Homo sapiens: one gene and its partner. The protein of the gene in region 1 purifies or fractionates together with the protein of each later gene. This does not show direct contact. Each region holds a gene or a part of one and is shown in the gene's direction. Other genes may lie near its edges.

What was found.
Region 2: the proteins of LRCH3 (region 1) and MOB1A purify together in Homo sapiens (co-immunoprecipitation; one large-scale study listed by IntAct). This does not show direct contact.

What each region holds. Positions count from the first base shown.
Region 1 is NC_000003.12:197,829,122-197,832,945, forward strand, and holds part of LRCH3 (DISP complex protein LRCH3), read left to right. Parts: intron 1-442; coding exon 443-552; intron 553-1,643; exon of another isoform or gene 1,644-1,648; coding exon 1,649-1,742; exon of another isoform or gene 1,743-1,776; intron 1,777-1,915; exon of another isoform or gene 1,916-2,102; intron 2,103-2,153; exon of another isoform or gene 2,154-2,233; intron 2,234-3,075; coding exon 3,076-3,196; intron 3,197-3,824. UniProt on the Homo sapiens protein: As part of the DISP complex, may regulate the association of septins with actin and thereby regulate the actin cytoskeleton.
Region 2 is NC_000002.12:74,161,810-74,165,633, reverse strand, and holds part of MOB1A (MOB kinase activator 1A), read left to right. Parts: intron 1-282; coding exon 283-416; intron 417-3,824. UniProt on the Homo sapiens protein: Activator of LATS1/2 in the Hippo signaling pathway which plays a pivotal role in organ size control and tumor suppression by restricting proliferation and promoting apoptosis.

The sequences.
Region 1 (3,824 bases):
AGAAATATATGTAATGTTTCATGATTTCCTGCTCTTCTCTCTCAAAGCAGAATCAAAAACATAGTTGTATATGATTGTTGGATTCCTAAAAGTAAAAGTTGCTTCATGTAATCTAATGAGGAGAAATGCTTTAAATCTCTGACTATGCAAACTAGTCAGTGTGATAAGTTTACTTGGTATTTGAACAGTATAATCAAAAGTTATTTATTTATATATTACTGAAATGTATTAGTGACTAGAAAATGAAAACATATTTACCAGTTAAACACCTAAAATAACACTTAACCAAATAATATAATTTATTAGTTTTTAAATATTACTGTATGTACTTGATAGAAATGCCTCCCTTTCCCAATGTATGTTACATAAAATGTTGATATGATAAAAAGGAGCATACTTCAGATGAGTAATAATTTGGCTACATCTGTGTGACTTTATTTAGATATGTATAAAAGGCAAAGTCCACATATTTAAATACCTGAACATACAAGCTTGTAAGATTGCTCCAGATCTGCCGGATTATGATAGGAGACCGTTGGGTTTTGGCTCCTGGTAAGTATATTCTGTCCCTTTATCTATCATATTTTTTGTACAGAGAATCAAATAAAATGGATACTTAAATTTGCCTGAATGTTTGACTAAAGGGAAATAACCTGTTTTAACACTGTTATTCTCAGAATGCTTGTATTGTAAAGTTGATTACCTAGATCTGGCAAAGTCTAGTTCTAAGGGTTTCTCAACCTTGGCACTGTTGACATTTTAGATCAGATAATTCTTTGTTGTGATGGGCTGTCCTGTACATTGTAAGACATTTACCAGCATCCTTGGTGTCTGCCCATTAGATAGATGCCAGTAGTACCCTCGCAAAGTCTCCAAATGTCACCTTGGGGCCCTCCAGTTGAAAACTACTGGTCTGAGTGACTTGAACGCTAACTTTAGCTCTGCTGCTGAGGTAACTAGCCGAAGGCAAGTCATTCCTACTTTTTGAGTTTCATTTTTTCTACAAGGAGTCAAGAGTTGGATTTGTTGACCATTAACATCACTTCAGGATCTTTTAATCTATGAGTCCCTCAGCTACACAGCCTGTGACTTATAAGGTCATCTGCTTGGCAGTCCCAACCATCTGGAACAATCTCTTTTTTTTGAAACAAGGTCTTACTATGTTGCCCAGCCTGGTCTCAAACTCCTGAGCTCAAGCATTCCTCCCACCTCAGCCTCCTGAGTATGGAGCAGTCTTAAGTAGCAAGAATTAAATTCTTAGGCCTTTAAACAAGCAGGATAGATGTTTCAGTCAAAGTGAAGTAATGTTTATGGACTTTACTCAAAAGAGAACCTCTCAGGCCTTCTCTTGAACCTCTCAAATTTTGCTTAAAAGCACAGTCCTAGTAAACTCGCCTCATTGGACGAACAAGAATTGCAGAGGTGTGATTGTTTTGAAGCTGGATAATAATGAGTACATGAGGTCTCATGCTATTCTGTTTGCTTTGTTTCTATTTGGAATTTTTCATATTAAAAAATTAAAGCCCATTTAGTTCTAATAGTTAAGTGACTGCCACATTTCTTGTTTTTTAGAAAATTGATCTGTTTAATTTCAAATTTTAATTGTTAAAATAACAAACTTTGCAGTAACAGAGTCTCTTTTCGGCAGCCATGAAGAACTGTACTCAAGTCGCCCTTATGGAGCCCTTGATTCAGGCTTCAATAGTGTGGACAGTGGTGATAAGAGATGGTCAGGGAATGAAGTAAGTGTTTTTTATGTTCCGTGTGTTATAACACCTGATTAAGAGAAAACAGAATGATGAAAATGAAAAGCGTCTTAACTGGATTCAGTTTCTCACTACATAAAATACAGAAAAGTCAAGGTGGAGGCAAGATTCCCACCCTCTCCAGCAGAATTGGCATTCTGCGTCCTTACCGGCTTTCTGTCACGTGGATTTCCGCCTGTTTCCTCATTGCCTCATGGAAATAGTTTCATATCATAGAAAGGCAAACAGGAGCTGAGCCAGTTGAAACTGAAGCCTACAATCTGAGGTGGGGGGTAATCTCGAGCAGAGGTGCTAGATGGTGAGAAAACAAGTAGGACTTTCGGCTGATGGGTAGAGACAAGGACCTTAGTAAAGAGTATTCATGTGCTCAAGAGGAATAACTTCCTGGCTAATTCTGTCGTTTTTCTCGTTTTTAAATTATTGATATTATGTTTTCTGCTCTTAAAAATTACTGTGTCCACAGAGGTCTACAGAAGAAAAAAAGTAAAAAAATAAATAAAAATTACTAATGTGTAATATTTTAGCTATGCATTAAGTTATTAAGTAAACTTTTGTTAGCAAGACTGATAACCTACTATTTATAACATTGTTTTACTGTGAATTGAAACCAAATTAATTTTAGACCACATCCCATTTGAAATTTGGAATTACTTGTGTTTGTATGTCTTGGTGGGTGGGTTCATAAATGTGGCTGTATCAATACAGATATATATGTAGATATTTTAAATCTATATATATATAATTTATGGAGTCATGAATCTTTTATATTTTTTGAGACAGAGTCTTGCTCTTTCACCCAGGCTGGAGTGCAGTGGCACGACCATGGCTCAAGCAGTCCTCCCACCTAAACCTCCTGAGTAGCTGGGACTACAGGCTTATGCCACCATGCCTGGCTAATTAAAAAAAATTTTTTTTTAGAGACATGCTCTCCCTATATTGCCCAGGCTAGTCTCAAACTCCTGGGCTTGTCATTCCCATCTTGGTCTCCCAAAGTGTTGGGATTATAGGCATCAGCCACCACTCCAGACCAGATTTTTATTTTTTTGAAATAGGATCTCGCTTTGTCGCACAGGCTGGAGTGCAGTGGTGGAATCCTGTCTCATTGCAGCCTCGAACTCCTGGGCTGAAGCGATCGTCTCGCCTCAACATCCCAAGTATTAGGATTACAGGCATGTGTGAGCACATCTAGCTAATTTACTCCTGGCCTCAAGTGATCCTCCTGCTTTGGTCTCCCAAAGCGCATGGATTACAGGCATGATCTGCCAGGCTCTAAAATGATTGTTTTTAATGTTTCTGCTTCTTTTTTAAGCCTACAGATGAATTTTCAGATCTGCCTCTTCGAGTAGCAGAGATTACTAAAGAACAAAGACTACGAAGAGAAAGCCAGTACCAAGAGAACCGCGGCAGTTTGGTAGTAACAAACGGCGGAGGTAAACATAATTCCGGTGACAGCTAAAGTGTTTGCAACCATTTAACTTTTTAAAGTTGTCTTTTTCATACCCACTCCTTTTGTTGGTGTATCTATAGCTTCTTCACTCTTCTTTTAAAGACTTCTTTTCATATATGATTGAAAAATACTATTTTCCATTGGGATGAAACTATGATTTCTGGTTTCAGTCAGAGTTAAAATACACTATTTCTCCCTTGTTTTTATTTTGGGAGGAAACTTTATTAGAGACAGTACACCTGGAGCAGATCTTTGTTAATCTGGATTTAATCACGACCTTTTGAAGTAACATTCTCCCTTTTTAAGATTCTTGCTGTGGTCATTATTTGATCTCTTTTAGGAATTTAGTCCTTTTTTTTTTTTTTTTCAGTGTTTACCTTTTCTTCACCTGGAATTGTCAGATGCTCTTCAAAGTCATCTGAATCACAGTTTTCCTTATTCTGACATTAAAAAATTTGTAGTTCATTAGCAAGCAGCACTCTCTCTACTTGCTTATACTTCCGAAGCAGACTCTTGATTTTCGCATTCAATTCTGTATTGCTTGAATTGGTTTGAATTTAATGTTTAATGTTTAATTTCATATTTAAATTTTGAGGGCCAGTTATAATGGA
Region 2 (3,824 bases), on another chromosome or scaffold:
GAATGCAGTTCCTTTGTGTTTCCCAGGGCTGTGTTGTTAATAAAACATCTATCCTGGCATTGCCTCCTGCCACATTATCTCCCTTTTTTCTTCCAGTTATAACTGTCACTTTCTGGATAATTACATAGGGAACTCACAGTAATCTTCAGTAGAACTTAAGGTGATTTATTAAAGTTAGATGTAACTTCTATTGACAAAATGTGAATGAACCTGTTTTAATCACAACTTGCACATTTGTTAATATTTTTGAAAAATTTATCAGTAAAACATTTTTCTCTTCAGATATGAATATCACTGGGCAGATGGTACTAATATTAAAAAGCCAATCAAATGTTCTGCACCAAAATACATTGACTATTTGATGACTTGGGTTCAAGATCAGCTTGATGATGAAACTCTTTTTCCTTCTAAGATTGGTGAGTTAACATTGTCGAAGTATTCTTTCTTTTTTTAAAATTTTATTTTATTAATATAAATAGAGTTGGGGGGGTTTGCTGTGTTGTCCAGGTTGGTCTCAAACTCCTGGCCTCAAGTGATCCTCCTGCCTTGGCCTCCCACAGTGCTGGGATTACAGGTTTGAGCCACCGTATCCAGCCTGTTTCTCTTTTTGAATGATAAATCTGCTCTTTTTAACATTGTTATACTTGTAGAGACTGCCAAATTCTCCTCCAAAAAGTTTGTACCAACATGTACTCCCCCCAGCCCTGTTTGTGTTTGCCAGTGTTTCTTCACCAACACTGGTTATTACTCATTTTTTAATATTTTCTAATTTGGTTAAATTTCTGTTTTAATATGCATTTAAAAAATGTTGATGAGATTGAGCATTTTAGCCTTTTTGTTTGTTTTATTGATCATTGTGTGTTTTCTGTTTATATCTTTCATCTATTTCTGTGTAAAGGATATTAGCGCTTTGTCGTATGTGTTGTATATCTTTTTCCCCGGGTTACCTTTTGTCTCATTTTGTTCATGGAGTATTTTTGCTGTACACAACCTTACTATTTTGTCCTATTATATCTTTTATGACTTGATTTTAATATAACAATTAGAAAGCTTTTCCCTGCTTCAAGATTATAAAAATATTTATTCATGTTTTCTTTTTTTATTTTTTTATTTTTTGAGACAGAGTCTCACTCTGTTGCCCAGGCTGGAGTGCAGCGGCACAATCTTGGCTCACTGCAATCTCCACCTCCCAGGTTCAAGCAGTTCTCATGCCTCAGTCCCTGGGTAGCTGGGACTACAGGCACATGCCACCATGCCCAGCTAATTTTTGTATTTTTAGTAGAGATGGGGTTTCACCATGTTGGCCAGGCTGGTCTTGAACGCCTGACCTCAAGTGATCTACCTGCCTTGGCATCCCAAAGTGTTGGGATTACAGGCATGAGCCACCACGCCTGGCTGGGAAGTTTTTTTTCCCTGAATGCTACATTAATTTTTTTCCAAATGGAAATACTAGTCAGTTTGTCCCATTACCATTTATTAAACACATTTGCCTTTTCTCCCCTGATTATCTTATGTGCACAACAAATTGCCATATATTTTTGCATGTTTTAGTCTCTTTATCTGTTCCTATAGAAATTCCACACGTTGGTGACTGTGGCTCTGCATCTGTTAGCATCTTGTAAGGCTGGTCTCCCTTCCTCGCTCTTCTTTTTCAGAATATTCACAGCTATTCTGGGATATTTGTTTTTCCAAAGAACTTAGAAACATTTTGTCAAGGTGAAAAAAAAATTAGATTTTAATTATGACTATATTTAATTTTTATAGATAGGGATTCTTTTTACTGAATCTTCCTAGCCAAGAACAAGATATTGTTCATTTATTCATGTCTTTAGCTTTATTTTCTCTTGTAAAATTCTGTAGTTTATGTCAGTTGTTCAAGTTTCTTAATTTTATTCTAGGGATTTTATGTCTTTTATTGATAATCTGGTTTCCAGCTGGTTATTTAGTATATAGGAAAGCTGTTGGTTTTTATTGTAATTTATTTTTAATTTTTTTTGAGACAGGGTCTCACTCTGTTCCCCAGCCTGGAGTGCAGGGGTGTGATCACAGCTCTCTGCAGCCTTGATCTCCTGGGCTCCAGTGATCCTCCCACCTTAGCTTCCCAAGTAACTGGGACTGTAGGCACGCACCACTACACCTGGCTAATTTTGTTTATTTTTTGTAGAGATGAGGTCTCATTATGTTGCCCAGGCTGGTCTCGAACTCCAGGGCTCAAGCATCCCTCCTTCCTTGGCCTTCCAAAAGTGTTGGAATTACAGGTGTCAGCCACCAGGACTGGCCAGCTGTTGATTTTTATTTAAATTTTATAATTAACCATCAGACTCTTTTTCTGTTAGTTTTTGGTTGGTTCTCTTGAATTTTTAAAGTATACAACTGTGTCATATTAAGATAGTGTTCATTTTGTCTCTTCCTTTCTGATAATGTATTCTTGTTTTTACGCTTGCTTATCTGATTGCACTGAGTGGTATTTCAAGCGCAATGCCGAGTAATGGTGATGATGGCAGACATCCGTTTCTTGCCTTCTTACTATTATGCAAGTACTTCTAGTATTTCTGCAGTAAGCCGAAATCTTGGCTTTTGGTTAGAGGTGTATGGATTTTTAAAAAATTATATTAATGAAAAATATCCACCATTTATATTACAAAAATTGTTCTTAACGAGGAATGGCTATAGAGTTTATCAGATGCTTTTCCAGTATCTGTTGCCTATGACCATAAGGTTTTCTCCATTTTTTAATAAAAATATTCTGCTGGAAGAGTATTTGTTAATATTTTGATTAAGAGTTTGGCATCAGTATTCATGGATGAAATCACTCCTTGTCATTTTCAACTTAAGAGTATTTTATGAGCAACATATTTTTGAATTCCTTTTTGCAGTCTTATAGAGGCTTTTCAGGACAACAGTTTTTTTCCAAGTTGTTAACATTTGGTCTGTTTGTTGTTGGTCAGTTTTTCCATTCTGCTATTAAACCTTTTATTTCCTTTCTCATATATCTTTATTTTATATTGACTGTGCTTGAATATATCTGTTAAATTCAGCTTGGAAAGTGTTTAGATTTAAACAAATTACTTATTTCTTTACTCATTAAAGTCTCTGCTTATGGAAGGTAAATAATTCTTTTGATTTATCCTCTTTTCTCTCTTTTTTGTTTGGAGACAGGGTCTCACTCTGTCACCCAGGCTGGAGGGCAGTGGCACAGTCTCGGCTCTACTGCAACCTCCACTTCCTGGGTTGAAGCGATTCTCGTGCCTCAGCCTCCAAGTAGCTGGGACTACAGGCGCCCACCACCACACCTGGCTAGTTTTTGTAGTTTTAGGTAGAGACAGGGTTTCACCATGTTGGCCAGGCTGGTCTCGAACTCCTGACCTCAAGTGATTCACCCACTTTGGCCTCCCAAAGTGCTGGAATTACAGGCATGAGCCACCATGCCTGGCTTTTTTCTCACTTTCTTGTTCTTAAATAATTCATTCTGATCCACCACCTCTTAATCCCACTCCCCTGCCATTAGGCTATTATCTGCATCTTACTTTTGCCAGTTATTTAGTCTCAGACAGAACTGTTTATCATTAATTTTTTACTAATATATGCACATTATTAATATCCTTTTATTAGAAAGATGCCCATTTATACATTCTGATAAAAAAAGATGTTTGATTTTGAAATCTACTTTTTTTTTTGAGACAGACTCTCACTCTGTTGCCCAGGCTAGAGTGCAGTGGTGCAGTTACAGCTCACTGTGGACTTGACCTCCCAGGCGCAAGTGGTCCTTCTACATCAGCCACTTGAGTAGCTGAGACCACAGGCACGTGTGCCACCACGCCCAG